Regions from separate parts of the Homo sapiens genome. Here region 2 is linked to region 1. The links come from fine-mapping of genetic effects on gene expression. A gene starts in region 1. The other region holds a variant in brackets. All regions are shown on one strand. Distances are between the middles of the regions.

Region 1 (15,729 bases):
TGGTGGCTCACACCTGTAATTCCAGCACTTTGGGAGGCCGAGGCTGGAGGACCCCTTAAGCCTAAGAGTTAGAGACCAGCCTGGGTAATACAGGGAGGCCCCTATAAGGAGACCCTCTAACTCTTTGAAAAAAAAAAAAAGTCTGTTAATGTTCAAAGGGAAGGGACGTAACTCCACATCTTGATAAGGGTAGTGGCAAGGTTCGAGAAGGGTATGAGACTTTAAATATTGTTGGGGTCATTTCTGCAAAACACAACTTGCCATAGGTTTCTTTTGTAAAATGGGAGACCAGTGATTACCAAAAGGCAGCAGGGAAAAAGAACTGGCATGATCCCTTGATATGGATATGTTTTTATGTAGGTCAATTTTAATAAAGGATTTACATGGGCACTGCGATCTGAATTTGCATTCCCTTAAAGCTATTTATGCCTGCATATCCCTTAGAAAGTTTAATATTCCCAGGAGTATGTAGACCCTTGTTTGAAGACTCTACTATAGACTACACTTCCATCCTTTAAGCATATGAATTTTTAAGATGTATACTTAATTGTAAGTTTTTCTAAAAAGTTATTCAGCATTTTTATAGAGGTAAAATGTGTATCCTAGAACATTAAAAAACAATCCCTTTCATTTTAAAGAATAATCAATTCCTTTTACTCAGATAAATAAAAATAGAGTAACGGTAACAAACCAAATGGCCAATGCCACAAGAATTTTGATAACTGAATACACTACTTACAGTGTATGCATCTTTCCTGAGGACAAAAATTTTTCTTAAAAAACTCAGGCCAGGTCTCTAGAAGTAGATGTTGGTAAGCGTTAGCAAGAAATTTTACCTTTGTTTTATGTTACACTTACAGTGAAATAAAATGTACGTAGACCATTAGAAGAGTTACAGTTTGAATGTCTTCCAAATATGATATAAATACACTGGCACAAAATCCTAACTTCTGTTTTCGTCTTTACTAATAACCCAATGATCTAAGAGATGCTTCAGTAAATTATCTCCAAATGTCATTTCCTAAAGACAACATTTCTTACCTATAAAGTTCAATAAAGTATTTAAAAAAGTATTCCCTTTGCTTTAATTTCCATTATACATCATGACCTCAACATATCTGGAAAGACATAATGTTGGGAATAAGGACTTTTTCTTTAAAATACTGGGGAAAAATTACTAAGTTATCCCTTTTATATACAGGGTGTAGGTAGAACAATATAGTAGTTACAATCAGAATTTCTACATCCATTTATCACTTAAGTACCTACTATCTTGCAGACACTATTCTAAAAACTAAGGAAATGGGGGTAAATGAGAAAGTAACAGCTACCACTTATTGAGTGCTTACTATGTGCCAGGCTCTGGCTTAAGAGTTTCATACATAAATTCATTTAATCCTCCAACACAACACCTCTATGACACAGGTACTATTAATTTTCTCATCTTACACATGAGAAAATTGAGGCATAGAGAAGTGAACTCATCCAGCTAGTAACTTGTAGAAACAGCATTTCCAAAATCCTGGCTTTCATGGAGCTTTTATTAATCTAAAAGCCTTCCATTCTTATTTTCTAGTCTCTGTGAAATACCTAATGAACAAATTTCTGTGGGTATGGTTCAAATAGGAGGTGTGACCATTTTGTTTTTACACGTTTCTTTCTGGGAATGTTGAAACAAAAGTTTTACTAGCTCTATCTTCGTATTTTGTAACTTCAAAATGCCTAGAGTCTGTGTTACATGTTAAAACACCTGATTTTGGCCGGGCATGGTGGCTCACGCCTGTAAACTCAGCACTGTGGGAGGCTGAGATGGGTGGATCATTTGAGATCATGAGTTCGAGACCAGCCTGGTCAACATGGTGAAACTAAAAATACTAAAAATACTAAAAATACATGTTCTGGGCTGGGCACGGTGGCTCATGCCTGAAATCCCAGCACTTTGGGAAGCCAAGGTAGGGGATCACTTGAGACCAGGAGTTCAATCGAGACCAGCCTGGCCAACACGGTGAAACCCCATCTCTATTCAAAATACAAAAATGAGCCAGGCGCGTGCCTGTATTCCCAGCTACTCAGGAGGTCGAGGCGGGAGACTCGTATGAACCTGGGAGGCGGACGTTGCAGTGAGCCAAGATTGCGCCACTGCACTCCAGCGTGGGCAACAGAGTGAGACCCTATTTCAAAAACAAAACAAAACAAACAAAAAAAACAAAACATGGTCTCTACTAAAAATACAAAAATTAGCCAGGCATGGTGACATGTGCCTGTAGTCCCAGCTACTCAGGAGCCGAAGGTTGCAGTGAGCCAAGATTGCACCACTGCACTCCAGCTTGGGCAACAGACTCCATCTCAAAAAACAAACAAAAAACCACTTGATTTTTAAAAAATAGTTGGGGTAACAATTCTTCCATATTTTTCTCTCCAGAACTATAGGTATATATCCATAGCATCCCTTAATTTGGAAAACCACTTCTCTACTCCAGGTAGGCCCAGTGGTGTTCAAGGTCACAGAATCCTGTCTCATTATGGTGATGTGTCCATGATTCAAGTTAATTAGGTCTCACTGTGGCCTTGGCCACAGTTAATTGGTTCAATAATACAGAAACATGATCTAAGTATGGCAAATTTGTCTTCTCTTGGATTGATGGAGATGAGAGATGTTCTTTTTGCAATGGAAGTGATTTGAGGCTGCTGGTAGCTATCTTCTTTGGCCTCAAGAGAAACTAACTCCATAATGCTAAGAGGTATAGAGAAATTCAGATAGAACACTTTGATTTAGCAATGCATGGTCTATTCTTGCCTTTTCCAGTTAAATGAGTATAAAGTTATGCTTAAATGGGTTTCTGGGGCTTCAAGTTTTAATGCATTTTAACAGAAGCATTAGATAAAATGAGTATGAACAGAACTCTGTTATTCTCATCCTCATTATTTACGAACAAATACAGAGCTGTCTACAGCTCAAAGGATGGTTTACCTATTTCATTTTCAAAAATAATTTGCAAAACATTTACCTATGAACTCTAAGTGACTACAAAGCATTACTGTAGTAAGTCTACTTCTTTATCATACCACAAAACCACAATAGCTAGAAGACAAAATGTTTTATTTTAAAACATTGAAAAAACATTAAAAGACAAATGTCCATTATGTAACCAGGAATGTTAAATATATGGAAACGGTAAATCTCTAAAATGTGGTAGGTACTTCCAGAGCTAAATGTTGCAAGTTATCCTACTTTTTTCTCTAATATCAACAATACCTGATACGATGAAAAATAACAAAAAGACCTTACTAATTATCCAATCAAAGTCATCATCTTTGGGTAAATTTATATCAACACAACTTAAAGTTTTGTCCAAGATGTTCCTGACACATGAAGCTTCCAGTTGAATTTCAGAAATGTTAACAAAAGTATCTTCCTTTTTTGCCTGTGAATGTTTGAGTATTGCTGTATTGTTGGCTTATATCCACTACAGATACTGGTTCTAGGCCAGCCCAAGGATCTTCAAGCATTGAAGGCTTGAAATAATTTTCCAACTCATTAGACATTCTTTTTTCTCTAACACGCCCTGATCCAAATGGTGTAGATGTCCTTGGAGAACCCTTTAGAAAAAAAATCAGTTAAAAAAACACTTAGTAAAGATAATTGGTACTTCTTCCTTTAGCTAAAGGTTAGCGGGAATCACATTGCTGCTTAAAAGTTGTGACTTGAACCTAAATAATGTTCAATTACAAAGTCCATGCTTCCTTTAATCAAGTGTTCCTATTTTTTAAAAAAAGTACTTAAAGCAATTCGTTATTCTCATTTATTTATAATTCCATGACCACTGTCATCTCAAATACTTTTGTGTCTAATGTAGTAACTTTGCAGTAATTAAATACAAGCAGTGATGAAATCAAGTAATTATATTCAATTTTCCCTCGAAATTTTCACTTTTTTCAGGAGAAAACAATACTATAGTTTTAAAGTTTCTAGAACCTTTCTAGCTCATGAACATTTTCTTTACTCCTTAGCTCCAGGCTCAAAAGGGGTAGGGGGTTGGTGTAGAATACAGCAAGTTGGAAAACCACGTAGTTGCAAGTTGTAAACCACAGAAATCCCAGACATGCTAGAGATACTCTCTCTGTCTTTTGTATTTACTCTCACTAAAGGAATGGAAAACTTCCACTACCACCGATTTTCTTTTCAGGGAAGTTGGAGCAGAAGCCAGTGTAGCTCGAAAGAAAGATAAAAAAAAAAAAAAAAAAAAGAAAAAGAACTATTTCTTGAAACAAACTGGCAAGGCCTTTGGCAAACAGGAGGAAATGGAGAATTAGGAAAATCTGTGTACGGGTGGCAGTGTATTGGTTAAAAGCACGAGGGCTCGAAAACAGAACGTACGGCTCTGCCACTCTTTCGGATAATCTTCCGGAAGTCACTCAACTTCTCTAAGCCTCAGTTCGCTCATCTGCAAAATTGGGCTAACAATAGTACCTCAGAGAGGATTAGACAAAATAATCCACGTAAAGGGAATATTAGTACCGTGCCTGCCATAAAGTAAGAGCTCGGCAAACGCTGGCTATTATTATTACCTGGGGGTGGGTCTGCTGCTGCCCTGGGGAGTAGCCGAATTGCTGCTGGGACCCCGCGGGGGACCTGGAGTAGGAGCCAGGGTAGCCGCCAGGGGACGGAGACCCGAACCGGCCCCCCGGGAAGCTGCCGCCGTGTCGCGGAGAGTGACTGCTCCCGTACGGCCTAGACCGGGGCCCGTACGGCGGCGTGTGGTGCGGACTCCCGTACCCGTCTCGAGGGGAGGGCGGCCGTGGTCCGCCCCCGCCCGGGGTTCCCCGGAAGCTGCTTCCGCTACCCCAACCTCCTCCACCCGGACCAGGGTAAGGAGGAGTTGGGGGCCGAAAATTCTGTCGCTGCATATCAGGAGCCAAAGCCGAAAACCTCGCAGCCGCGTTCTCCCACCGGAACTGTATCAACCGGCCCTCCGCAGAGAACTGCTAGTCCTTTACCAAAACAGTCCTCCGACCGCAGCCACCCTACGGCACATCAGTTCCGGCGTCACAAAGGTTCCGCCAGGGGCGGCGGGATTACCTAAATCACTGACTTGGCGAGAGACTCAGTGGATTTAAGTGAAAAGAGGAAGAAAAGGAGACAGGAAAGGACGGACACCCAAGCCCAGCAACAACCTTTCCAGTCTGAGTGCCCTTGGTCTGACCGACAGACTAGAAGCTGGCCCAGCAGGCGACTAGTGCTCAGCCCCGCCCGGCGGGGGCGGGGTCTGCGGCGTCCGTGGGCGCCCCCCAGTGGCGGCGGGTGGCGCCGCACGGAGTTCGCCGCTTGCACCGGGACCGATGCCATCTGAGACGCACGCGATGCTGGCGACGCTGGCGAGGGTGGCAGCTCTGCGCAGAACCTGCCTCTTCTCCGGCCGGGGCGGCGGGAGGGGGCTGTGGACTGGCCGCCCGCAGTCAGGTACCCTCCGAGATTCGGTCTGGGTGGCTAAAGGGATCCCTGCCCCAGCTTGCCTCCTCGGGCGCCCTGAGGAGAGCAATTAGGGTCTGAAGTCTCTGCTGACCCCTTAGCGGTGGCTTTGCTCGCCTCCCTGCAACCCCGTTCCGTGGGCCTGCGGCCGGCCTGCCCCGCTCTGGCCGCCCAGGGTCGCCTCTGTCCCGTGCGTTGTTGTGACCGAGGGCTCCGTGCGCCGTGGGGTCCCGCTCCTGCGCGTCCCGCGGCTCGCGTTTGGGGCCTCTTTACTCCTGTCCTTTCGTCCGCCAAGTTTAAGTAACTTCGAAAATGCACACCAAGCCACATTTCAGAAAGGACTTTAGCCCGCTGCTTTGAATAACTTGACACTTCATGTACAATAAAAGATGCCCTTGTACAGTTACCTGTTGCAGAATTTTATTTAGAGGATGAAATTTAGCTTTACTACAGTGTTATAGAACTTTCTTTACTCCCTCTGAATTTGGGAATGGTAATCCACTATGAATCTTTTTTTTCCTTTTTTCTTTTTTTCTCTTTTTTTTGAGACGGAGTCTCGCTGTCTCGCCCAGGCTGGACTGCAGTGGCGCGATCTCGGCTCACTGCAACCTCCTCCTCCCGTGTTCAGGAGATTTTCCTGCTTCAGCCTTCCGAGTAGCTGGGATTATAGGCATGCGCCACCACGCCCAACTAATTTTTGTATTTTTAGTAGAGACGGGGTTTCGCCATATTGGCCAGGCTGGTCTCGAATTCCTGACCTCAAGTTATCCTCCCGCCTCGGCCTCCCAAAGTGTTGAGATTACAGACGTAATCTCTATGATTATGCGCGCGGCCCACTATGAATCTTGAAATTAGTTGCAGGATGCAGGATTTTTTTTTTTTTTTTTGAGACAGTCTCGCTCTGTCGCCCAGGCTGGAGTGCAGTGGCGCGATCTTGGTTCACCACAACCTCTGCCTCGCGGGTTCAAGCGATTCTCTTGCCTCAGCTTTCTAGAGTAGCCGAGATTACAGGCATGTGCCACATGCCCGGCTAATTTTTTTGTATTTTTAGTAAAGACGGGTTTCACCATGTTGGCCAGGCTGGTCTCAAATTCCTGGGCTCAAGTGATCCGCCTGCCTCTGCCTCCCGAAGTGCTGGGATTTCATGCGTGAGCCACCGCGCCTGGCGTAGGATACAGAATCTTAAAAGAGCTTTAGGACTCATTAAATCATAGCCTAACGGGTAGCCTGGACCTGTGATTTCCATTCACCCTCTTGTAGCTGCTACTCCTCGCTGTCTCTTTGACATGTTCTGTGACATCCCAAGCTGACGAGTGTGGTATCTTCTCAGCTTCTATCCTCCTTGATGAATGGAGACACACACAGACAGTTTTTTTGTTTGTTTATTCTGTGGAAATTCAATTCACTACATTTCGTTTCTTCTGTAGATACAAGTGATAGACTTAATCAAGGTAGCACGTTGCCATTAAGGCTTAGTGATACAATTAAGGTCGGAGGACTCCAGCCTATCCACTTTATTAAATACAGTAGTTCTGTCCTGGCCAAAAATTCACCTTTCTGGACATTGTCTTTAGTGTTTAACTTAATGCTTGGGAATTGCTCATTTGAATATTTATTGAATAAAATGACCTAGGTGGGACGATTGCTTGAGCCCAGGAGTTGAAGACCAGCCTGGGCAACATCGTGAAGCCCCATTTCTACCAAAAATACAAAAAAAATTAGCCGGGCTTGGTGGCGTGCGCCTGTAGTCCCAGTTGCTTGGGAGGCTGAGGTGGGATGGCTTGAGTCCTAGGAGGTTGAAGCTGCAGTGATCCGCTATTGTGCCACTGCACTCCAGCCTGGGTAACAGAGCGAGACCCTATCATGCCCCCCCACCCCACTGGAAAAAAAAAAGGTTCACATACATCACATAGGTAATTTTCACCTTTTAGATCATCAGCCAGTCTACTCAGGGGAGGGGGCAGAAAAGTGAGAGTGGTGGGGACCAAAATTAACTTTATTATTATTATTATGGACATGGGGTGGTCTCACTCTGTCACCGAGGCTGGAGTGCGGTGGTGAGATCACAGATCACTGCATCCTCGACCTCCTGGGCTCAAGTGATCTTCCCACGTCAGTCTCCCAAGTAGCTGGGAGTACAGGCTCATGCTACCATGCCTGGCTAATTTTTTTATTTCTTTATTTTTTGTAGAGACAGGGTCTTGCTGTGTTTCCCAGAACTCCCCACCTCAAGCATTCCTCTCTCCTGCCTTGGCCTCCCAAAACTCTGCAATTAAATGGTGTGGTGAGCCACCATGCCCAACCAACAAATTAATTTAATAGTAAACAGTTTAACTGATGGACGCCTAATGAGTATATAGATCTTTATTCCATCAACCCATTTATCTGTATAACTTCAATCTAACTAAAGTTCACTAAAATTTATTAAAATTCAAAAGCCATGCTCTTTTTAAGCTTCTAGTAGTACATTTTGTAGCAAGATAAAAGTGACCAATAAAAAAGTTTGAGTTGTGTTTTTCTGTCGTATAGCAGTATACTCTCTCTATATATTTTTTATTTATTTAAGTATTGAGACATGTCTTGCTCTTTCATCCAGGCTGGAGTGCAGTGGCGCAATCCCAGTTCACTGCAACCTCTGCCTCTCTGGGCTCAAGCAATCCTTCCACCTCAGCCTCCCAAGTAGCTGAAACCAGAAGTGTGTGCCACCATGCCTGGCTAATTTTTGTATTTTTTGAAGACATGGGGTTTTGCCATGTTGCCCACACTGGTCTTGAACTCCTCAGCTCACAGAATCCAGCCACCTGGGCCTCTCAAAGTGCTGGGATTACAGGCATGAGCCCCCTGTGCCCCAGCCAGTTATGATTTTGTTTTGGCATATATTCATGGGGGTACAAGTGCAGTTTTGCTACATTGATATATTGTATTGGGGTGAAGTCAGGGCCTTCAGTGCATCCATCACTGGCACAAGACACATTGTACCCAGCAAGCAACCTCCTGTAGTCCATCCCCTTCCCTCTACATCCCCAACCCTCCAAGTCTCCATTGCCCATCACTCCACACTCTGCTTCCATATGTACGCATTATTTACCACCAACTTATAAGGGAGAACAGGCAATATTTGTTTTTCTGTGCCTGAGTGATTTCACTTAAGATAATGGCCCCCAGTTCTATCCATGTTGCTGCAAAAGACATAATTTCATTCTTTTTTATGGCTGAATAGTATTCCATTTTGTATATATGCCATATTTTGTTTATTTAGTGCTCCATTGATGGGCACTTAGGTTGATTTCATATCTTTGCTTTTATGAATAGTGCCGTGATAAACATATGAGTGCAGGTGTCTTTTTGATGTAATGATTTCTTTTCCTTTGGGTAGATGCACAGTAGTGGGATTGCTGCATCTTCCGGTAGTTCTATTTTTAGTTCTGTGAGAAATCTCCATACTGTTTTCCATAGAAGGTGCACTGATTTACATTCCCACCAACAGTGTATAAGAAGAGTTCCCTTTTCTCAGCTTCCTCACCAACATCCTGTGATTTTTTTTGTCTTTTTAATAGCCATTCTGTTGTGTGTAAGATGATATCTCATTGTGGTTTTTAATTTGTATTTCTCTGATGATTGGTGATGTTGAACATTTTTTAAAAATTTTACTCATGGCAGTACACAGAAATTTTCAGGGAAGATTAAAAGGCATGAAAACATGACTCTTAATAGACAATTCTAGCAATATACAAACTATTTTTGTTTCCCTAGAGTCTTGAATTTTTTGTTCAACTCATTTTCTGGTTATGAATTTAAAATGATTACAGCATACTGCCAATGTTTGAGAAGAAATCTGTTATTGGATTAAGTTTAGGAATCAGGCTGGGCGTGGTGGCTTATGCCTGTAATCCTACCACTTTGGGAGGCTGAAGTGGGTGGATCACCTGAGGTCAGGAGTGAGCCGAGATTGCCCATTGTACTCCAGCCTGGGCGACAACAGCAAAACTCTGGCTCAAAAATAAATAAATAAATAAATAAATAAATAAATAAATAAATAAATAAATAAATCCAGGATTCATAATATTAATTAATTTATTTAATTTTGTGACAAAGTCTTGTTCTGTCACCCAGGCTGGAGTTCGATGGCAAGATCTCAGCTCACTGCAACCTCCACCTCCTGGGTTCAAGGATTGTTCTGCATCAGCCTCCACAGTAGCTGGGACTACAGGTGTGTGCCACCACGCCTGGCTAATTTTTGTATTTTTAGCAGAGACGGGGGTTTCACCATGTTGGCCAGGCTTGTCTCAAACTCCGGACCTCAGCTGATCCACTCACCTCAGCCTTCCAAAGTGCTGGGATTACAGGCGTGAGCCACTGTGCCCGGCTGATGGTGAACATTTTTGATATGCTTGTTTGTCTTTTGAAAAATGCCTACTCATGTCCTTAGCCCATTTGTTAATGGGATTATTTGTTTTTTGTTGTTGAGTTGTTTGAGTTGCTTACAAATTCTGGATATTAGTCCCCTGTTGGATATGTAGTTTGCAGATATTTTCTTCCATTCCTCAGGTTATCCGTTCACTCTGTTGATCATTTCTTTTGCTATGCAGAAGCTTTTTAGTTTAATGAAGTTCCATTTGCCTATTTTTGTTTTTGTTGCCCGTGCTTTTGAGGTCTCAGTCATGAATTCTTTGCCTAGATCAATGTCTAGAAGAGTTTCCCCTAGGTTTTCTTCAGTATTTTTAGAGTTTCATCCTTACATTCAAGTCTTTAATCCATCTTGAATTTATTTTTTTCTTTCTTTTTTTTTTAAGATGGAGTTTCGCTTTTGTTGTCCAGGCTGGAGTGCAATGGCGCGATCTCGGCTCACTGCAGCCTCCGCCTCCTGGGTTCAAGCGATTCTCCTACCTTATCCTCCCAAGTAGCTGGGATTACAGGCATGCGCCACCATGCCCCGCGAATTTTTTGTGTGTTTAGTAGAGACAGGGTTTCTCCATGTTGGTCAGGCTGGCCTCAAACTCTCGACCTCAGTTGATCCGCCCGCCTAGGCCTCCCAAAGTGCTGGGATTATAGGTGTGAGCCACCGTGTCTGGCCAAATTGATTTTTTTATATGGTGAGATACAGGGATCCAGTTTCATTCTTCTGCATATGGCAATCCAATTTTCCCAGCACCTTTTACTGAAAAGGGTATCCTTTCCCCAGTAAATGTTGTCGACTTTGTCAAAAATCAGTTGGCTTTAAGCATGTGGGTTTATTTCTGGGTTATGTATGCTGTTCCATGGATCTATGTGTCTATTTATTTATTTATTGAGGTAGAGTCTTGCTCTGTTGCCCAGGCTGGAGTGCAGTTGTGCAATCTCAGTTCATTGCAACCTCCGCCCCCCGGGTTCAAGCGATTGTCCTGCCTCAGACTCCTGAGTAGCTAGGATTACAGGCGCACGCCACCACACCTGGCTAATTTTTGTATTTTTAGTAGAGACGGAGTTTCACCATGTTGGTAAAGCTGGTCTTGAACTCCTGACCTCATGATCCGCCTGTCTTGGCCTCCCAAAGTGCTGGGATTACAGGCATGAGGCACCGCACCTGGCCCTATGTGTCTGTTTTTATAGACACTATGAGTATTATGCTGTTTTGGCTACTATAGCCTTGTAGTATATTTTGAAGTCAGAAAATGTGATAACACCAGCTTTGTTCTTTTTACTTGGGATATTTTTGGCTATTCGGGCTCATTTTTAGTTCCATATGAACTTTAGAATTGTTTTTTCTAATTCTGTGAAAAAATGATGTTGATAGAAATTGCATTGAACCTGCAGATTGCTTTGGGCACAATGGTCATTTTAACCACATTAATTCTTTCAGCCTACGTGCATGGGGTGTTTTTCCATTTTTTTGTTTCATCTATAGTTTCTTTCATCAGTGTTTTGTAGTTTTCCTTGTAGATTTCTTTCACCTTCTTGGTTAAATATATTCCTAGGTGTTTTATTTTTTTGTAGCTATCATAAATGGGACTGCCTTCTTGGTTTCGTCCTCGGGTAGAACATTATTGGTGAACAGAAATCCTAGTGATTTCTTTTCCTTTTTTTTTTTTGAGACAGTCTTGCTCTACTACCCATGCTGGAGTACAATGGTGCAATGTAGGCTCACTGCAAAGGCCTCCCAAAGTGCTGGGATTACAGGCATGAGCCACTGTGCCCATCTGATTTATAAATTTTTGACAGATTATGCATGAGAGTGTGCTTCTTGGGCCAGGCGCGGTGGCTCATGGTTGTACTCCCAGCACTTTGGGAGGCTGAGGCAGATGGATCACAAGGTTAGGAGTTCGAGACCAGCCTGGCCAACATAGTGAAACCCCGTCTCTAGTAAAAATACAAAAAAATAGTCAGGCGTGGTGGTGGGCACCTGTAATCCCAGCTACTTGGGAGGCTGAGGCAGGAGAATTGCTTGAACCCAGGAGTGGGAGGCTGCAGTGAGCTGAGATTGTGCCATTGCACTCTAGCCTGGGCGACAGACAGTGCAAGACTCCATCTCAAAAAAAAAAAAAAAAAGTGTGCTTCTTATCACATTTACAGGTAATATATGAAGATTGAGGGAGAGGGAATTCTTTTTTTTTTTTTTTGAGACAGGGTCTGACTCCAGTAGCCCATGTTATAAATAAAGGTTTGGTGCCACAAAAGAAATAGCACTGGAATATAAAATTTTCTTTTTAATTCTCAGCAAGGCAATGTACTTCTATAGAAGAATGCGCCCTTACAGATGGAACAATGGTGAGCACACACCTGGACAAGGGAGGGGAAGGGGTTCTTATCCCTGATGCACGTGGCCCCGCTGCTGTGTCATTCCCCTATTGGCTAGGTTTAGACCACACAGGCTAAACTAATTCCAATTGGCTAATTTAAAGAGAGTGACGGGGTGAGTGGTTTGGCAGGAAAAATGGTTATGGCAGAGCAGGAAATCTGAATGAGTCAGGGTGGAGAATGAGCAGGTAATCGGAATGACTTAGGGTGGAATAGGTAACTGGAATTAGTCATGGTGGAGCAGGTAATCAGAATGAGTCAAGGTGAAGCAGGTAATCGGAATGAGTCAGGGTGGAGCAGGTAATTGGAATGAGTCAGGGTAGAGCAGATAATTGAAAAAGGTTGCTTTACCAGGAAGTTAAGTTTAAAACTAGAAAGCAAAGAATTGAACCTACTGACAAACTGATTCTTTGAAGAGAAATTTAGAACTCATATCTAACATTCTGTCCTCTTGCATTTCCTTACGGCTCTTTTTCTTCAAACTTCTTTAACATGTCTTGGCTTAGTTGTTCTACAGATTTTCCAAAAGAAGAAGCTTCTTTACATAAGGCAGAGAATAGTTAAGGGAGGTTTTAGTAAGTGCTGTTTTTATGAGCCTCTGCACCAACCCATGGATGCATGGTGTGACACAGCACCTGACAAGAGTAAGTACACCCATTATGGCTGCGAGGGAAGTAAGAACTGAGGCTATTATTCTTTTCCACTTACTGAACCACTTTTCTAGCCATCCTGTAAAGGAGTCATTTACCCCTGAGTTGTTGGCTAACTCATTGGACACAGCACTCAGACCTTGCAATGCCTTTGTTATACTTCCATCAGGGACAGTGTTGTTTGGGATGAAGGTACAACATTTGTGTTTTAATCATGATACAAACTCCTCCTCTTTCTGCTAATATCATGTCTAAGGCTATCCTATTTTCCCAAGCCATGTGGCTTGTAGCCCCTAATTACTCAGCTATTCCTTTAACAGCATCTCTAGTATAGTTAATAAATTGCTGTTGGTTGTAATAGATGTAGTTTATCCAATCTACATTTTTATTAATTGTCACCCACCAAAATATTGACTCAAATTCTGTAGCTATTTGATTTTGGGGTTTAAATTGATCTGGTATTCCCTGTGGGACTCCAATTGCATTTAAATAGATGTGAGAGTCGAAAGACCCATAAGAGGCTTCCCTTGCTTTATGACGTCTGGTTTTTCCTTCCTCTGCTTGATGAAAGGCCAGAGTAAAAGGGATAGCCGATTGGACTAGAGCATAAATACTGCTCTAATTATTTGGCAGAGTGTCCAGTAAAGGTCCTCCATAATCCCACCATACATCCGCTTAGGGATGAATAAGGGCAGACTGATAGGTCAGCTCTTGGAAGTGCCACACTTCACTGCATCCTGTTAAGTCTCCAAGGAATGCCAAATTTTTCCCTTGGTCGTTGGAGACATGAGGTAAAATTGATTTTGGAAAATGGAGGCTGGATGGCCCTTGGGGGCTGACCCGCAGCATGCTGGACTTTGGGATATAGCAGAGAGAGAGTGTGGCACAACTTGTTACTCTAGGCTGTAGAATCCTGGAAAAGAGCTACCATGCAGCCCATGCCTGGTTGACTGGATGACCACCCTAGTGGAAAGGGGACAGTCTGGGCCTCTGGCCTGCGGTGCGCACAAGCATAACAATTGCTTTTGTTTAACGTGCAGACGGAATATTTGATCCATTCCAACCAGGCATTTGCATCTTGGTATCTTGTCTTAATTGCCGAAGTTTGTTTTAAGTCTTTAACTTGTATGATAGCTATCTTGGTCTTGTCGTTAGATGGAGGAGTGGCAATTGTTCAGTTGTGAGAGGTTTTGGAAGAAGGCTTAGAGGAAGGTGCAGGCACTGGGGGATCAAATAAACACATTTCAAAGAATCCAATAGGGTCTGTCCCTGAAACCTCAGCCCCCATACCATAAAACTGGCTTAAAGAAGGGAACTGGCTTAGAAAAGGGGAAGAAGTTTGAGGGTTCGAGATAATAACCTGTATTGGAATGCACTGGTTTAGCTGACCCCCAGTTGGGGGTTGGCTGTCCCTCTAGTAAAATGAATGTATGGTTTTAGGAAATTACAAAAACTGGTTGGGGCAGTCCATCCTTGCTCTTTAGTGGTCCACAGAATGTTGGACAAACTACGGCATAAAAGCTCTACACTGGGGGGCAAGACTCCTGGTTGACACTGGGGTCTTTACCAAAATCTCCCTGGATTAAGTGGTCTCAATTCACTAATGTCTAGTCTCAGGAGAGTCAGGAGGGAGAGAGGTACTTTTCTGAAGTAGAGAGCTGTCTTTGACTTGGCAAGTCCCCACAGGGTATAACAAGGCAAGCATCAAATGCAATAGTTTGAAGAGAAATTGACTTGGTTATGTTAATAACTAGATGGTCAGCAATAGAGCGAGGAAAGAAGAAAGAGTAATAGAATAGATGAAAGAGAGTGAAATTTTTCTTTGCTTTAGTTTGGTAGGGTTTTCCCCTGGGACTATGGCCCATGACTCTGGAGGGGGCGGCGCTTTCTTGACTCAGGTGTGATGAGTCTATTCCCTTTCCCACTGTAAGAACAGCAGTCTTGGTGGTTAGCAGCACAAGGTAGGGTCCTTCCCAGGGTGGCTGGAGTTTTCCTTCTTTCCACCCTTTGATGAGACCATGATCTTCAGGCTGTTGCTGGTTTACCGGAAATTCTAGGGGTGGTACCTGTGCTAAAAGACTTTTAGTTTTGAGGGAAAGGAAAGTGGAAGATAAACCAAGTATACAATTTCTAAGAAATTGATCTTTTGTTTTAAATGTGGGGACATCAGCAGTGGACTTTATAGTCCTTGGTGTCTTCTTACTGAGAAATTTCCTTTAGCACCTATTTTTATTAGTTTTTAGACCAAAGAAAGCCAAATACCATTTTATATTTGACAATGCTTCCTGTATGATTTTTATACCAGAAAAGCTAAATTTCACCTTTATATTAGTGTGCTATTAGTGATAAACTTAATTTTAATAAAACTTGTAGACACATTTATCCAATTTTTAATGTCTGACCATAAGGTAAGATTTTTATAGACTCTTTTTAACCTTGTATAATTTTTGTTAAAGAGCAGGTTAGTGCTTTAAGAAAAACCTGTTGTGCTTTTATTTTAATGTCCAGTTTACAGAAAAGCTGGATGATACCCCTTTAACTTTAGCCAATATGTTTACAAACAGAATTTTCTTTAAAATTAATGTTTCAAAACTTGCTTAAACCTTTAAAACAAAAAATTTTTTTAACCTTTTAATGTAGGTAAAAATCTACATTCTTATGCCTCATTATAATCCTTTTACCAAAAGTATATTTACTTTCCTTACACACCTTGCACATAAACTGTTTCTTCAATAGTTTTACAATCAAGAGGCCTAATTACTTGTACATTATACAACATTTCTTGCATAAATTCCCTTTTATAACTTTTTTTTTCACGACTTTCACAGACAATTC
Region 2 (15,729 bases), 850 kb after region 1:
GGAGACAGAGCAGCCTCTCAGTCTAGGTTTGTGTATATAATTGCTTCATTTTTGTGAATTAAAGTAAACAGTGCGGTTTATCCACAGTTTCCCATTTTTAAAGATCTATGCTCTGTCTATGAACATAGAAAATTAAGCCATGGTTTTAATTGAGAAAGCGATGTAGCACAAAGCATGTTAGCAATGGAGAAACAAGGATTAGATTGGAAATGATCGGTTTGCCTCTATTTGAATTATATTTATAGTGAGTGTCTTGCTAGTCAGAAGTCACAGAAATCAATTTTGTCTATCCTAAACAAAAAAAGAATTGGTTGGGGGATAGATGGAGAGCTCCCAGAAACATCAGGGTTGAATCGCCTGTAGGAACCAAGGGGGCCTCTGTAGCTGGATCCTCTGGCAGAATGCAGGTAGGCGAGGGGTAGGGCCACGTTACTTCCAGGTTCAGAGCCCCAGTGGAAGCTCAGATTGAATAGGTTCCACCAGGTAACCACTCTCTCACTGACAGAACTCTCCCCTTTCAGCCTCTGTAATGAAAGGTGGGCCTTCTTCCTTTACATCAGGGTTCCTCCCAAATACGAAGATTTGGTTGTTTTATAGCCCCAGATGACAAAAGTCCACTCCAAACATGATTCACATTCCCTGTATTTCCACTGCAATAATAATAATATCTATCAATTATTGAAGACTCATACTTTTCCAGGCATTGTGCTAGGTGTTCCTAACTTAGAACTTTTAATCCTAACTGCAACCCTCTAAAAAAGATAACAGTGGATATTTTTTATAGGCAAAAAAAAATGAGCCTCAAAGAGGTTAAGTGACTTTCCTATAGCCATACAGGTGATGAAGCCAGACTGATCTGCCCCCTGGAACTGATAGCTTGTCTACCCTATTATGCTGCCAGTTTATGGAGTATCTTCCCCTCAATTTTTTCCTATATTCTAATAAGTCGGGCAGATAGGACTTGTTTCTTAGCTATTACATCCACATCTGAGTAATGAAAGATATTAACAACAGTTCCTTTAAGACTCCTTCCATCTGTGATGTTCTAGGTTGCTATAACTATATTCCGACGGCTACCATTTTACAATGGCATTGAGTGTGTAATTACAGAACAGATTTGGACAATGTCGGTGGAAACATTATCACTATCAAGTGTGATGCTGTTTTTTGTTTGTTTGTTTGTTTTTTGGTATCGTGCAGCCTTCCTCTCCTGTAAGATTGTACTTCTCCCACTAAGTTAGGTCCCTGAAATCTGTTAGGAAACGAAATGCAGGCCTGTATCCCTCCAGAAGTGGCTGCCAAACATAAAATTTCTGCTGTCTGTTTGGTGATATGCTAATCAACCTTTGTTCTTCTAAATGAATACATCTCAGCAGAGACTCAAGGGAACATTTTCAAAGAACAAAGTGTATGTGTTCACCATTTTTACGTGGACAGGCTGTCTATTCAAGTAATAACCCTTGATGTTCTCTTGGGTGTATGTTTTAACTAGAAGCTAAAACCTACTTGGATGCTTTTGCAGAACCCTAACCCTGGCTTCAGTCTGGAACTTGATACAATTGCAAGTTGAAATTGCAAATTGTATCAGGGCTTTAAAAAGCATGAGTTCTGGGCTTGTTCCTTTCTAGTGAGGAGCAGTTTGTGATTCATTTATTCAATGGCATTGTAAATGGACATTTATGGAGCACCTGGTTGGGGCTTGGGATTGTATCAGCGTTGAGCTTTCATTACAAAAAAGACAAGTCCTCAGCGCAGTGCAGGAGATAGACATCAAAACAAATAATGAAAATGCTGGTGATGGAAATGACACGACTTGAGTGCCTGGAAAATGCACTAAATGATCAGGAAGAAGGGAACCACTAGGTGTTGGGGAGTAAATGTGGGGGAAAAAAATCTCAGAAGAAGTTAAATTTGAGTGCAGTGTTGATGACAGCAGTTTTACCTGGAAGATAAGGAGAAGTGTGTTTGAAGGCTGAAGGGTAAAAGCCTGCAAGTTTTGGGACATATGAAGTTCAGGACAATTGTGAATTACACAGAAAGGGAATTTTAAAAGGGCCAAAAATAGACCACCATAGTATGAATAGTGCTGTATATCATCCAAAAGTATTTGGATTATGTTAACAGGGAACTGTTGAAGGTTTTCACTAGAAAGTGATACAATCAGATCTGTATCTTAGAAAGATCACTCTGTGGACAGAAGGATTAGGGCAAATAGGGAAAAGCAGCCCTTCTGGATAGTAAAATTAGGGTTTTGGTAAAAATTCATACAAGAGTGGGAAGACCCATGGTTTTTCAGTCTCTTTAAACAAAAAATGAAAGCCATGAGGCTTAGATATGAAAATGTGTGGAAATTTCATTAGGAATAATTACAGTGTTTATTTTCTTTTACTAGGCTGAAATGTTTTTAAAAACACAGTAGGCCAGTACTATATACTTTGACTTTTTGAGGCATAAATTTTACACAACATGAGCCGAATTTTGTCCTCTAGCCCATAAAATGATTACCAACAGAATCCTCAGTTATGGTGAGTTAATAAGTTATTAAGAATACTATTTCTTATTTGAAAGTTTTCACACTGTTCCTCTTGCCAGTGAAAATGCTTATTTAATGTTCAATGATTTATTTAAGAACCCCTTTCAAACATGTATCATGTGTCATTGAGCTAAATCAGAATATGTGAATGTGGACTTCTTTAAGACATGTCAAAATGAATAAGAGTTTTAGTGAGCTGTTCTATTTCTTGTACAAGCCAGTGAAATAACAATGAGCAAGTCTTCAGTGTTGAGATGGGGAAATACGAAAACCATCCCAGCTTACTCCACTCATCACCATGGTTTCATCATCTATTACACAGTAAAACAAACAGAGCCACTGACTATAACCCTTAATGAGCATATGTGACTCCGATAATATTTATCGGGTTTATTTGTTTGAGGCCAACTGAAATGAAAAGAAAACAGTGCGGGATTGGGTCATTACTCTCTTCTGACGTGTGCTGTAATTCTAAGGAAAACATTAGTAGCCTATTTTTAGCAAGTACCTTCATCCACTGAAGAGATAATGGCCCAAGGAGTAATCGCTGAGATGGAAAGCAGAAATTCCCAGAATTAAACTGTCTTGCTCATCTGTTCTATGGTCATAGGAAATCTATCAGCACTGTCATTTCTCATCAACAACGAGGAATGTTTTAAATCAGGCCATTATGCAATTCTCCCTAACTGAACTACCTTTCACCTTCATCTCTGCTAAGTCAGGATCCTCCAGCCAAAAGAAATAAAAAAACCTCACCTCCTCCAGAAAGTCTCTCCACATCATCCTGTTTATCCACAAATGTTATCACTTACACCTTATTTGCACTTACATAATCTGTATATTCTATGTTTTTCCTTTATTCAAAAAAATCTATTGAAAAACTCATACAAAAATGATAAGGCAAGACATTGCTCTAGTTCCCATAATGATGGTGTCTGGGGGAGGTAGAGCTGGATGAAGAAGCTACAGTTTCTTCCCTAGAGGAGTACATAACCCAGTAGGACGGACAAGGACCACAACAGGGTAAAAACGTGGTCCTCAATATTGTTTTGCCTCAGGGTCTGAGGGCGATGCCACTCCCTGCCATCAGTCCCAGGGACTCATCAGAGATGGACAAAGGTATGTGGACATGACGAGGGGACTGCAATCCAGGCTGGTGGGGTGGAGGAGAGGAGGATGTAGAAAGTGGTTTGAGAATGATCAGGAGACACCAGTAGTTTAAAGCAGGGTTTTTGGAATGAAGATATGGATTACAATGTGGTACCTTCCACTATCTGTGTGACTCTTGGTAATTTATGTAATTTTTTAGAACTTAATAAGGTTTGTGTTACATATACTCCCACCCTTTCTTCTGGTGGAGAATCATTGTGTTAAATTATAAAATGTCTCCCATGAAAAATACTATATATGCTGGAGGTTCAGAAGAAAAGGAATTCTATGACTTTGGAGGAAGGGATCAGAGACAGCTTTGTGAAAAACATCTGGGTTTTAAGGTTAGTTATAATTTGAGGAAGCAATGATGAAGGAGGCAGAAACCATCCAACCATGAGCCAAATGATAAATGGAGTAAACAGAGAGTATTTGCATATTCCTTTCTTGATGTTTCAACAGAATTCCAGGCATTTGTTGATATTCCCACCAGAAACTGTAAGCTTCTTAGAGCAGGAACCATTATTTGTCATTCTATTTATTATCCATCTGCACAGAGAGGCCAATGAAAATAAATACCTTGTTGATGATCTGGGTCTATGTGAAATCATTCTTAAAACGTAGTGGTTGATCGATACACTGTGAAACTTGTTCTCTTTCTCTCTGTGTGTGTCTCTCTCCCTCAAAGGGAAAGGGAGGCTTGGAGAATGGAGAAGTGGATCCAGGGAGTGGAATGAAGCCTTCTCATTTCTAGAAGGTTTCACATGTATGAGATCCCATCAATTCTCCCCCAAAGAGCATGGCATATGTAATAGGCTCTCCAGAGTCAAGTAGTTAGGGTTTATTCGTCTTTTGTAATTCTTCAGTAATTGGTAAAGTCTTTAATTTTAATTTTAATTTAATATTAAAATTTTGCTACATGTTTTCAGCTAAGCAAAGAGGCAACTAGATGAAGATGTTTAATTTAAATGTGTTTAGAAGTGTTAAAGGCCAAGAAGACCCACAGGAATTGGTGGGTGGAGATAAGACCTTAGGGTACAGGCAGCTCCAGGGAAAGGAAGTTGGGCTCCTTGACTTATCCCTCCTCTCCAGGAGCAGATTCTCCTTCTAATGCTACCAGGTTCTGGGGTCCATTTTTTTTTAAGGTAGGTGTACTTCTCTTTGAAGGAATCTTTTATAGATTGGCATAAACTACTGAGATCATGCCACAAGGAGGTGTTCAAAAAAACTGACTTTATAGAGTGCTCTACAGCTGTATAGGTCCTAAAATGTGGATACTGATACTGGGGATAATAATACTGCTATAGAAAAAAAGTGTGTGTTTAAAAAAATATGCTTTAAATATGTGCTCTACATGTAATTTTTTATTATCGTAGAGAAAAGAATCAAAAGATTGAGAAAAGCGTTAAAGATAAACTAAAGAACTCCCATAAACTTATTATTTTAGCACCCTTATGTACTTGATATTATAGATAGACAGATTCTTGGGAAAAAAAGACATAAGAAAATGCTGAAATTCCTGTTTTGTGACTTGATTTTTTCCAGTTAATATATGGCTTTGCCAATAAATAAATATATTTCTAGCACATTCTTAATTTTTGTAGTTTTTTTTTGTTTGTTTGTTTTCTCCTCAGTATATAGGCAGGTTTGATTCCAGACACAACAATACAGCAAATATCACAATAAAGCAAGTCACATGCATTTTTTTTTTCAGTGCAAATAAAAATGATATTTACACTATACTGTAGTATATTAATTGTACAATAGCATTATGTATAAAAAACAATGTACAGACCCTAATTGAACATACTTTGTTGCTAAAAAAAATACTCAAGATCATTTGAGGCTTCAGCACATTGTAACCTGTTTGCAGGATCTAAATATGATGACAATGAATTTTGCTGCATCTATTGACTTTTCCTGTCACAAAAGATTTCTCTGTAACATGTGATACTGTTTCATAGCATTTTACTCACAGTAGGACTGCTTTCAAAATTGGAGTCAGTCCTCCCAAATTCTACCACTGCTTTATCAACTTAGTTTATGTACTATTCTAAATCATTTTTGTCATTTCAATTTATGTAATTTTCTAAATTTGTCTTTGTCATTTCAACAATGTTCACAGCATCTTGACCAGCAGTAGATTCCATCTCAAGAAACCATTTTCTTTGCTCATCCATAAGAAACAACTCCTTGGCTGGCATGGTGGCTCACACCTGTAATCCCAGAACTTTGGGAGGCCAATGTGAGCTGATCACCTGAGGTCAGGAGTTCGAGACCAGCCTGGCCAATATGGTGAAACCCCCATCTCTACTAAAAAAAAAAAAAAAATCAGCTGGCCCTGGTGGTGTGGGCCTGTAATCCCAGCTACTCCGGAGGCTGAGGCAGAAGAATCGCTGGAACCTGGGAGGCAGAGGTTGCAATGAGCCAGGATTATGCCACTGCACTCCAGCCTGGGTGACAGAGTAAGACTGTCTTAAAAACAAAACAAAACAAAAAACAAAGAAGCAACTCCTCATTCGCTCAAGTTTTATTATGAGATTGCAGAAATTTAGTCACTTCTTCAGGCTATATTTCCAATTCTAGTTATCTTGCTATTTCTACCACATCCGTGGTTACTTTCTCTGCTGAAGTCTTGAACCCCTCAAAGTCATTCATGAGGGTTGGAATCAACTTCTTCCTAACTCCTGTTAATGTTGATATTTTGACTTTATCCCATGAATTACAAATGTTCTTAATGGCATCAAGAATGGTGAATACTTTCCAGAAGGTTTTTAATGTACTTTGCCCAAATCCATCAGTGGAACCAAGCCCTATGGCAGCTGCAGTCTTACAAAATCATCTTCTTAAATAACAAGACTTGGAAGTTGAAATGGCTTCTTGATTCATGACCTGTAGAATGCACATTGTGTTAGCAGGCACAAAAACGACATTAATCTCCTCACACATCTCCATCAGAGCTCTTGGTTGAGCAGGTGCATTGTTATGAGCAGTAACATTTTATTAGTTTGGTGCAAAAGTATTTGCAGAACTGCAATAACCTAATAAAAGGAATCTTTTTCTTTTTTCCTGAGTAATCAGTTTCAACAGCGGTCTTAAAATATTCAGTAAACTATGCTGTAAACAAATGTGCTGTCATCCAGGCTTTGTTGTTGCATTTATAGAGTACAGGCAGAGTATCTTTAGCATAAGTTTTAAGGACTCTAGTATTTTCCGAATGGTAAATGAGCATTGGCTTCAACTTAAAGTCACCAGCTGCATTAGCTAGTAACAAGAGTCAACTTGTCATTTGAAGCTTTAAAGCTAGGCATTAACTTCTCCCTAGCTATAAAAGTCCTAGATGGCATCTTCTTCCAACAGAAGGATGTTTAATCCACATAGCAAATTTGTTTAGTGTAGCTACCTTCATCAATTTTCTTAGCTAGATCTTCTAGATAACTTGTTGTGGCTACTCCATCAGCCCTTGCTCCTTCACCTTTCACTTTTATGTTGAGAGAGCTTCTTTTCTCAAACTTCATTATCCAACCTGTGCTAGCTTCAAATTTTTCTTCTACAGCTTCCTCATTTCTCAGCTTTCACAGAAGTGAAGAGAGTTAGGGCCTTGCTTTGGATTAGGCTTAAATTAAGGGAATGTTGTGGCTGGCTTGATCTTCTGTCCAGGCCACTCATACTTTCTCCATATCAGCAATAAGTCATTTTGCTTTCTCATTCCTTTCCTTTTGCATTCACAACTTGACTAACTACTTGGCACAAGAGGCCTAGCTTTTGGCCTATTTCAGCTTTTGACGTGTCTTCCTCGCTAAGCTTAATCATTTCCAGCGTTTGATTTAAAGAAAGAGATGTGCAACTCTTCCTTTCACTTGAACACTTAGATGCCATTGCAGGGTTATTAATTAGCCTAATTTCAGTATTGTGGTGTCTCAAAGGAATAGGGAGGCCTGAGGAGATGGAGAAAGATGGAGAATGCTGGTTGGTGGAGGAGTCAGAGCAATTCCAACATTTATTAATCAGATTTGCCATCTTCACTGTTCCTTGCACCTCAAAACAATTGCAATAGTAACATCAAAGATCACTGATCACAGATCACCATAAAAGATATAATAATAATTTGAAAAATTGGAAATATTTTGAGAATTACCAAAATGTGACACAGAGACACGAAGTGAGTGCAGGCTGTTGGAAAAATGACACCGATAGACTTGTTGGATACAGAGTTGCCACAAGCCTTCAATTTGTAAAAAATGCAGTATCTGTGAAATGCAATAAAATGAAGCACAATAAAGTGAAGTATGCCTCTACGTTCTCACTTC[A/C]TCTATTGTATCTTGATTTGTTTAGGGTGAGGCAGGCCGGAGGGAATTTACTTCCTCCCGTTTGACCATGTGTCTGGTGAGAAGACCCACCTGCAGCTCCAGGAATGCCCCCATATTGGTTTAAGTGTTTCAGTATTTTCACCTTCAGCCCCTGTGATTGGGAAAGAATGGGCATGAAACAACTTGGGCCAATAAATGATAATACCTCCAGGACGAGCACGTATCAGAAGAGCCTTTCCCTCTTCTGCATGGTGTTAGAAGATGGAAGCTGAGTTTTCTCAGCTATTTTGTGGCAAGAACAGTGGTGAGGGGAACATCTGAACTGCCAGAGAATGTGTTTCCAGAAAGAGGTCCCAATCCAGACCCCAAGAGAGGGAATTCTTTCTTGCTGCAAGAAAGAATTCAGGATCAGTCCACAGAGTAAAGTGAAAGCAAGTTTATTAAGCAAGTAAAGGAATAAAGAATGGCTACTCCATAGGCAGAGCAGCCCCGAGGGCTACTGGTTGGCTATGTTATGGTTATTTCTTGATTATATGCTAAACAAGGGATGGCTTATTCATGGGTTTTCCGGAAAAGGGGTGGGCATTTTCCAGAACCGAGGGTTCCTCCGCTTTTTAGACCATATAGGTTAACTTCCAGATATTGCCATGGCATTTATAAACTGTCATGACACTGGCGGGAGTGTCTTTTAGCATGTTAATGTGTTATAATTAGCATATAATGAGCAGTCAGGACAACCAGAGGTCACTTTCATGGCCATCTTGATTTTGGTGGGTTTTGGCTTCTTTACCACACCTGTTTTATCAGCAAGGTCTTTACGACCTGTATTTTGTGCTGACTTCTTGTCCCATTTTGTGACTAAGAATGCCTTAACCTGTTGAAAACACAGCCCATTGTAGGTCTCGGCCTTATTTTACCGAGTCCCTATTCAAGATGGAGTTGCTCTGGTTCAAATACCTCTGACAAAAGTATCCCTCTTGTGGGTCTATAGGATCTGTGAAAACTGCTTCCCCATATTCTGAAAAGGGTTTTTCTGGGAAAAATGGGCCATAGGAGGTATGTATGAAGTAGTTCTGGTTATAATAGGAAGAGATTTGGCTTTGGAGTGAGCCAAGCCTAGCTTCAAATTCCAGGCACAGCCACACCTAGCAGTAATTCTACCCTAGGTGAGTTATTTTCTCTTTGGACCTCAGTTTCAGTACCTGTAATGTGGGTACAAGAAAACATATCTATGAGCTGTTGTGAGAATTTAAGGCATATATTCAAGAGCAAGAGTGTTGTGAGGCTTGAGCATTGTGAGAGAGGACTGTGGACACAGACACAGTTATGTGGGGAGGGGACAGGTAAGAGAATGAAGGAGGAATTAGGGCACAGACCTCCTTGTATGCAGGCTCAAGGGAAATTGGTTCCCTGGTATAGGTTTCTCAACCTTGGATATGTGCATAAATCACCTGGAGATCTTACTAAAATGCAGATTCTGATTCAGGAGTTCTTGCATGAGGTCTGAGTTTCTGTTTCTAACTAGCCCCTGCCTCCTGGTCATATGGATCTTCTGGTTTGTGGACCTCTTGGGTTAAAATGCTCTAGATCACAAATGAGGGCAGACCTCATCACCCTTATTTTTATTCCTGAGAAGTCTTTCTACTACCCACTAAATGGCAAGCTTTTCCAAGGCAATCCTAGATGTGTTCAGTGTTCTGTGCACTGTGTTTGCTCACTCTATGGAGGAAGAGAGCTCAATTATGGGAGGTAAAGGAGATGCCCTGATGCTGTCTGCTTACCCTGCAGAGCTGAATGCGAGAGGCTTACAAATGGACCTGAGCTCAAAAGTCAGGAAGTGTTGGTAGAATCCTGGCCAAAGCCTGGGTGGAGAGCTTCTCAGAGGGAAGATGGAAAATGAAAGGCTTTCTGTGTCACTGGTTCCCTTCATTGTTGGGTGTTCACATCTCACCGCACAGGAAGCAGCTTCATCTGCAGTTTCCTTCATGAGTCTAGGGAGAGCAAATTACTCCTTGATAGGAGGTAGGTAAGAAGGTGACTTGTTTCCCATTGGCAAGCATTTTACCCATGGCCAGAATCCAATCCCAGGGTTGTGCATCTTTGAGATGTAATTGAAGAGCAATAGATTTGAAGTTGGAAGAACTGGATGCCGCTCAGAGCTGGAAAATGACCTGTTCAGTTACTTGGACAAGTTATCCAACCTTCCTGAGACTCAACTTTTTAACCTGTAAAGTGGTGATTATCAAGTAGCACAAGTTTTCTAGTAATCCTATTATCAGGAACAAGTGAAAAAATATATGCAAGAACTTTGAAAAACAAGCAAATAAAACACTATTCAACTGTAAAGGATTGTAGGGACAAGAGTTGTAAGGCAGCTTAGTTACCCAATTGCCTGACTGTGAAATTATATCTGAGACACTAGAACCCAATAAGGTTGGCCTTAAGTATATCTGAGGAAGGGGCAATGCAGAGAGAAAAGTGACAACTACTCAGGAAATCTATCATGCCCTCTGTGCATTATGATGTCTCAGATGGTGTGGTCACCTGTGTCCCCAAGGATGCAATGCAGATCAGGACATGACAACCAGAGCATGACCCCATGGCCCCTTGAAGGTGTGCAGTGGCCATTCAGTTTGAAGGCAAAGAGATCTCCCTAATCTAATAAAGCACATCCGAGCAAAAGGATGGAGTTCAGTTTCTTCCATATCATTAAAACTAGATTGAGAATACCCACAAAATCTAATGTATGGATGGAAAAGAACAAAGAAGATATTTACATCCCACTTCTCTCAAAGAGTCACCCCCCCATTTTGGAAGCCTGTCAGCATCCTAATATTGCTGTTTTCTAACTCCTTGACCTGAATAAAAAAGTCCCATGCCCCAAGTGTAAAGAGATTGGAGCACATGCTGTGCATCAGTTTCTTGACATTTTAAAGAAACAGGAAAAGCTCAGAAACCAACCTGGCATCCAAACCAGGAAATGCAGGGCCTGGCCAGAGAAGGTACAGAAGGACAAATTCTCCTTGTGGGTTAGTCCATGTGGTCTGCTAAAATTTGGATATTTGTTCCTTCCAAATCTCATGTTGAGAAGTGCGATTCCCAGGGTTGGAGGTGGGGCCTGGTAGGAGGTGACTGGGAGGTGATTATGGGAGTGATCTCTTATGAATGGCTTACCACCATCCCTTTGGTGACAAGTGAGTGCTTCCTCTGAGTTCACGCCAGATCTGGTTGTTTAAAAGAGCACGCACTTCCTGCCCTCTCCCTTTTGCTGTTGCTCTCACATGTAATATACAGGTTTCTTCCACCATGATAGTAAGCTCCTTGAGGCCCTCACCAGAAGCAGATGCTGGCACCATGCTTTCTGTACAGCCTGCGGAACTGTGAGCCAATTAAACCTCTTGTCTTTATAAACTACCCAGTCTTAGGTATTCCTTTATAGCGACACAAATGTTCTAACATGCAGTCTAAAAATCACGTTCCCTTAAACTTCACATACTATACAATTCTGACAGATAATGCAATGAAGGATGCTGAAAAGGAAGGGAACACCAGTTAATCCCTAGGGCCTGGGAATAGAGATGACAAGGAAGTCAAAGAGTCAACCGTTTGCCCAGAGAATGACTCTTTCATTTAGCCAGTGGATTCTGTCTAAATGTTATCTTCTTGGTGTCTCTTTCTCCAACACTCATTAAGCAAATTAGCACCCACTCCCTAGACACATACACACATTTTATCCCCGTTATCTCCTCCCCTTCTCAGCACTTGGTATCCTATAATAGCTGTTATTATTATTATTATTATTATTATTATAGTTTACTCTCTTTCATCACCATAACGAAAGTTCCATGACATTGATTGCTTTGTTTACTATTATATCCTCTGCACTTAGCATGGCCCGAAAATGATAGGTGCTCAAGAAATATTTCAGAATGAATAATGCCCTGGATTGTGTCCAATTTAGTCCTTGAATACTTCCCTCACTTAATAGTTTTAGGTTCTTCAGCTTTTTTTTTCTCATTCTTCTTAATTACTTCAATATTTTTTTCTCAGTCTATTTTCGTATCATCATCATCATCACTATAATCATCACGTAAAATGGCTAGCATTTCTATATGTGGAGAACTTAAAACCTTACAGCCCTTCATGGCAATAGCTCCCTGGCAATCCACCTACAGGCACAGAAAGGGCTGGCAGTTGCACCTCAAGCTGAACAGTCTCCAATCTCCTTCAGGCAGAATGCTTCATTTGTGAAATTCATTTCTCAGGGTATATTTCTCTCCAGGTCATTTATGAAAAGGGACTAACTTTGTTGGATAAAAGCAAAGTCATAAAATCACTTTTCTGGTGGTATCATACATGAGGGGCAAATGGCATGCTGGTGTTCTAGCCCCCTGAATTGCAAAGTGACGTCTAACTGGCAGGAAACATGTTTCTCCAGTGTGAGCAATTTTGTCACAGATGGAGAAATATCTTTGGAAAAAAATATCTGACATATAATCAGTGCTCAACATTTTTGGAATGAATGCATGGACCAAATCTCCCTGGCTGCTCTGTTTCTCCCTCCTATGTTGGTGGCTTGAATTTTGGGGATTTGTGGTAGAGTTAACTACATGTCCATGCTTTTTTTCTCTGAAGCCCAGCTGTCACTGTGTAGCCTCTGTCTTCCTGTACATGAAACATTCCCTGTGCATCTGGAGGCTCAGAGAAGGGACCCCGCCAGTCTGCACGTGAAATTTGCAGCCTCAGCTTCTGCACCTGTGGGCTGAGCGATCTGGAATATATTTCCATTTCCCGGTCACAGTTGGAGCAGTGAGATTTGACCTTTAGAAGGCAGTGGTTTGTTGAGAGCCTGTTCTTAGTTCTTTTTAAATCATGTACACACTGCAAGAGCTGGACACCTCTGCCTACTGAAGGCTGAAGGAATGTTCCTTGAAGCCAAGTCTAGACAGAATTCCAAAGCAGGGGAATTGGTGGGGACCAGGGAAATTGCCACACCGTCCATGCCAACTTTCTGTCCTGCAATTTTACCATTTTTGTGTTTCTGGATGTTAGCCAAAATGAGATGCCTTTTGTGCCAAGAATGACCATAACAAGCAGGTTGAGGTTTCCACTGGAGGTTAATTTAAATGTTCCACCTTCCTTCAGCTCCCAATTTAAAGTGCATTATGTTTCCCAAGGCAACCCCAAGATTTTCCAGGCCTCTGGTTTACTGAGGGGAGAAGCAAGGAAAAGCCAAACTATTCTCTGTCATTTCTCAATTTATAGCCACCTGTAATCAATCATCAGATGAATGGGGATTTACAAAAACAATTGAATTAGGAAAGTACTAATCCCAACTGTCAATGGGATGAGTAAAACCCCAAACTGAAGCGAAGGAGACAGGCATGATCTTTCTGGCTCACTTTCTGCTGATGCCTGATGCGGCTCCACAACCTGAGGCTGAGCCTGCCCCAAGCCACACAGCTGGCACCCCATGAAAACCTGGCATCCCAAGCCCTCATGTGGTTTGTGACCTTTTGTTTTAAACTGCCTGCTCCACCCATTTCAAACTCCAGGTCCTGAAGAAAACATTCTCTGAGCATCTGATGGTTTCTTATTCAGAATCTACTCTCTGTCTCCCTCATCCTACACATCCATTAGCCACGAAGTCCCACTGATTTTACTTCCTGTCCCATTCATATGCACACCCACTGCCACTGCACTGATGCAGGTCCTGCCATCCCTCACCTTGCTGGGACCATCTGCCCGCCCTCAACATGTTCTCTACAGCAGCCCCGCTGTCAGCTCCATTCTCCACATGGCAACCAGCACCACAGGTCAGCCATAAGAATCTGACCTTGCTCTTTCCTGCCTAACATTCTAAGCTTTGATCACCAGACTGCTCATGGTTCACTTACCACCACCCTGCACACACACACACCTGCTGGATCATGACTTTGCCCTTCCTTTGGCCACTCCCCAGGCATTCCCAGGCTTCACTTGGATAATATTCACTTCCCAAGATGTGGATAAGGTTGCATCTCTTAGAAACCTTCTCAAACGCATCACCCTGGTTCAAACATATCTTCTTACTCTGCTCATAATTTCCCATGTAATTTTGAAATTATTTGATGACATCTCCTTCCTAAGCTCTCAGATCCTAGACAGTGGGATTGCCCCTTCCTGACCCCATACTTGGAACACAATAGGTATTCAAGAAATCTGTGTTGAATGGGAGTGATAAGCCTCACTTCTCCCTAAAATCAGTTTTCTTGGTATTGATCTCTTGACTTGCTTCATTTCCTGTCTTGACAATGGTGTAGACTGTTTCCTCTAAGGGTGCTTGCCCTGGTGTATTCATAAGCAACCTGCTCAATGCTCACCAGCTACTCCTCGGAAATCTCTCAGTGGTCCTGGAGTCCATCCCTGGGATCTCTCAGTGGCCTCTCTGTAGTTTTAAGAAGAATTTTCAATGAGGACTTAATTCCGGAATGATTTTGAAAGTAGGTGTGGGCAGTGGCTCACACCTGTAATCCCAGCACTCTGAGAGACTGAGGTGGGCAGAACACCTGAGGCCAGGAGGTTGAGACCAACCGGGTCAACATGATGAAACCCCCGTTTGTACTAAAAATACAAAAATAAATTAGCCTGGCATGGTGGCACATGCCTGTGGTCCCAGCTACTCAGGAGGCTGAGGCTGGAGGATCACTTGAACCTGGGAGGTGGAGGTTGCAGTGAGCCGAGATTGCACCACTGCACTCCAGCTTGGGCGACAGAGTAAGACTCTGAAAAAAAAAAAGGAGCTAGGTGTGTTGAACTGAGTACATAATCACTACTACATTAAAAAACTGCTCCAGAATAAAGCCAGAGGAACAAGGATGACATGAAAAATGTTGTAGTCCTATGGCACTTTGTAGCTACAAAGGTTTGTCTTATTTGGGAAAATTTAGTAGCTCTTGTGCCCAGCAGTCATAAATTAGTATCTTTTCTGAGTGCTGGCTTATTGTTACATCAACTAGGGAGCTTTTAGCTGATGCCCAGGTACAATCTCAAAGGTTCTGATTTAATCAGCCTAGGTAAAGCCTAGAGTATTGGTGTCTTCTAGAAAGCCCCCAAGGGATATTTTGAGCATCCAGAATTAGGAAAGGTTGCTCTACAATGAGCTTCTCCTCATTGGTGGTGACACCCCTGACTCTGTCTTCCCAGCCAAAGCAAGTTCCTTTTCACTGCGCCCCTAATGACTGTGGACTTTACAAAAGCTTAGGTGATCTCTCTTGAGAATAGCTTCCAGTGATTCTTCAACTTGGGATTTCACTATGCAGAAAATGTGTTGAAAAGAGAAAAAGAAAACACTGCAAAGGGATCACATTTATGATTCTGTAACAGGTAATTTAAGCAGTGGTACACATACATGTGTAAATATATACCCAATGCAAATATAACATGTTATACACCTGTCTCTGTGGAATGCAGTGTGGCACAACAGAGACTGCTGTACTGTGAGCTGCCGAAGTGACACACTTTGAACTTTATGTCTTACTTAGGAAAGCCTGGAGATCGATCTTCATAAATTTAGGTGAGAGGACGTCTGTAGATTGAGGGCCCTGCCTGAAGGACAGGCTCTTCCATTATGCACAGCTTTTTTTTTTTCTCATTTTAAAGTATTCTTCTTGTCTTCCTGAAGCAAGACCAACCATCACTGAGGAGATGAAAAGACTTGACAAACATCAGCCTTGGGACTAAAACTTAAAAAAAAAT

Evidence for each region. PIP is the estimated chance that this variant, and not a neighbour inherited with it, causes the effect.
Region 2: its variant is fine-mapped to the expression of SUGCT in whole blood (TOPMed, PIP above 0.99).

Annotation. Positions count from the first base shown.
Region 1 is chr7:40,129,660-40,145,388 of GRCh38, forward strand. SUGCT (succinyl-CoA:glutarate-CoA transferase) reads left to right here and starts at 5,346. Exons shown (of 14, transcript NM_001193313.2): 1 at 5,346-5,461. The coding sequence starts at 5,362. MPLKIP (M-phase specific PLK1 interacting protein) reads right to left here and starts at 4,963. Exons shown (of 2, transcript NM_138701.4): 1 at 4,570-4,963; 2 at 1-3,600. The coding sequence starts at 4,908. The coding sequence ends at 3,400. RefSeq lists silencers at 4,689-4,758, 5,219-5,418 and an enhancer at 4,969-5,038.
Region 2 is chr7:40,983,609-40,999,337 of GRCh38, forward strand. It overlaps a transcript of SUGCT not described here. Among named protein-coding and RNA genes, the nearest start is that of LINC01450, 12 kb to the left of the region's middle. The variant A/C (reference allele first, on the strand shown) is at 7,993.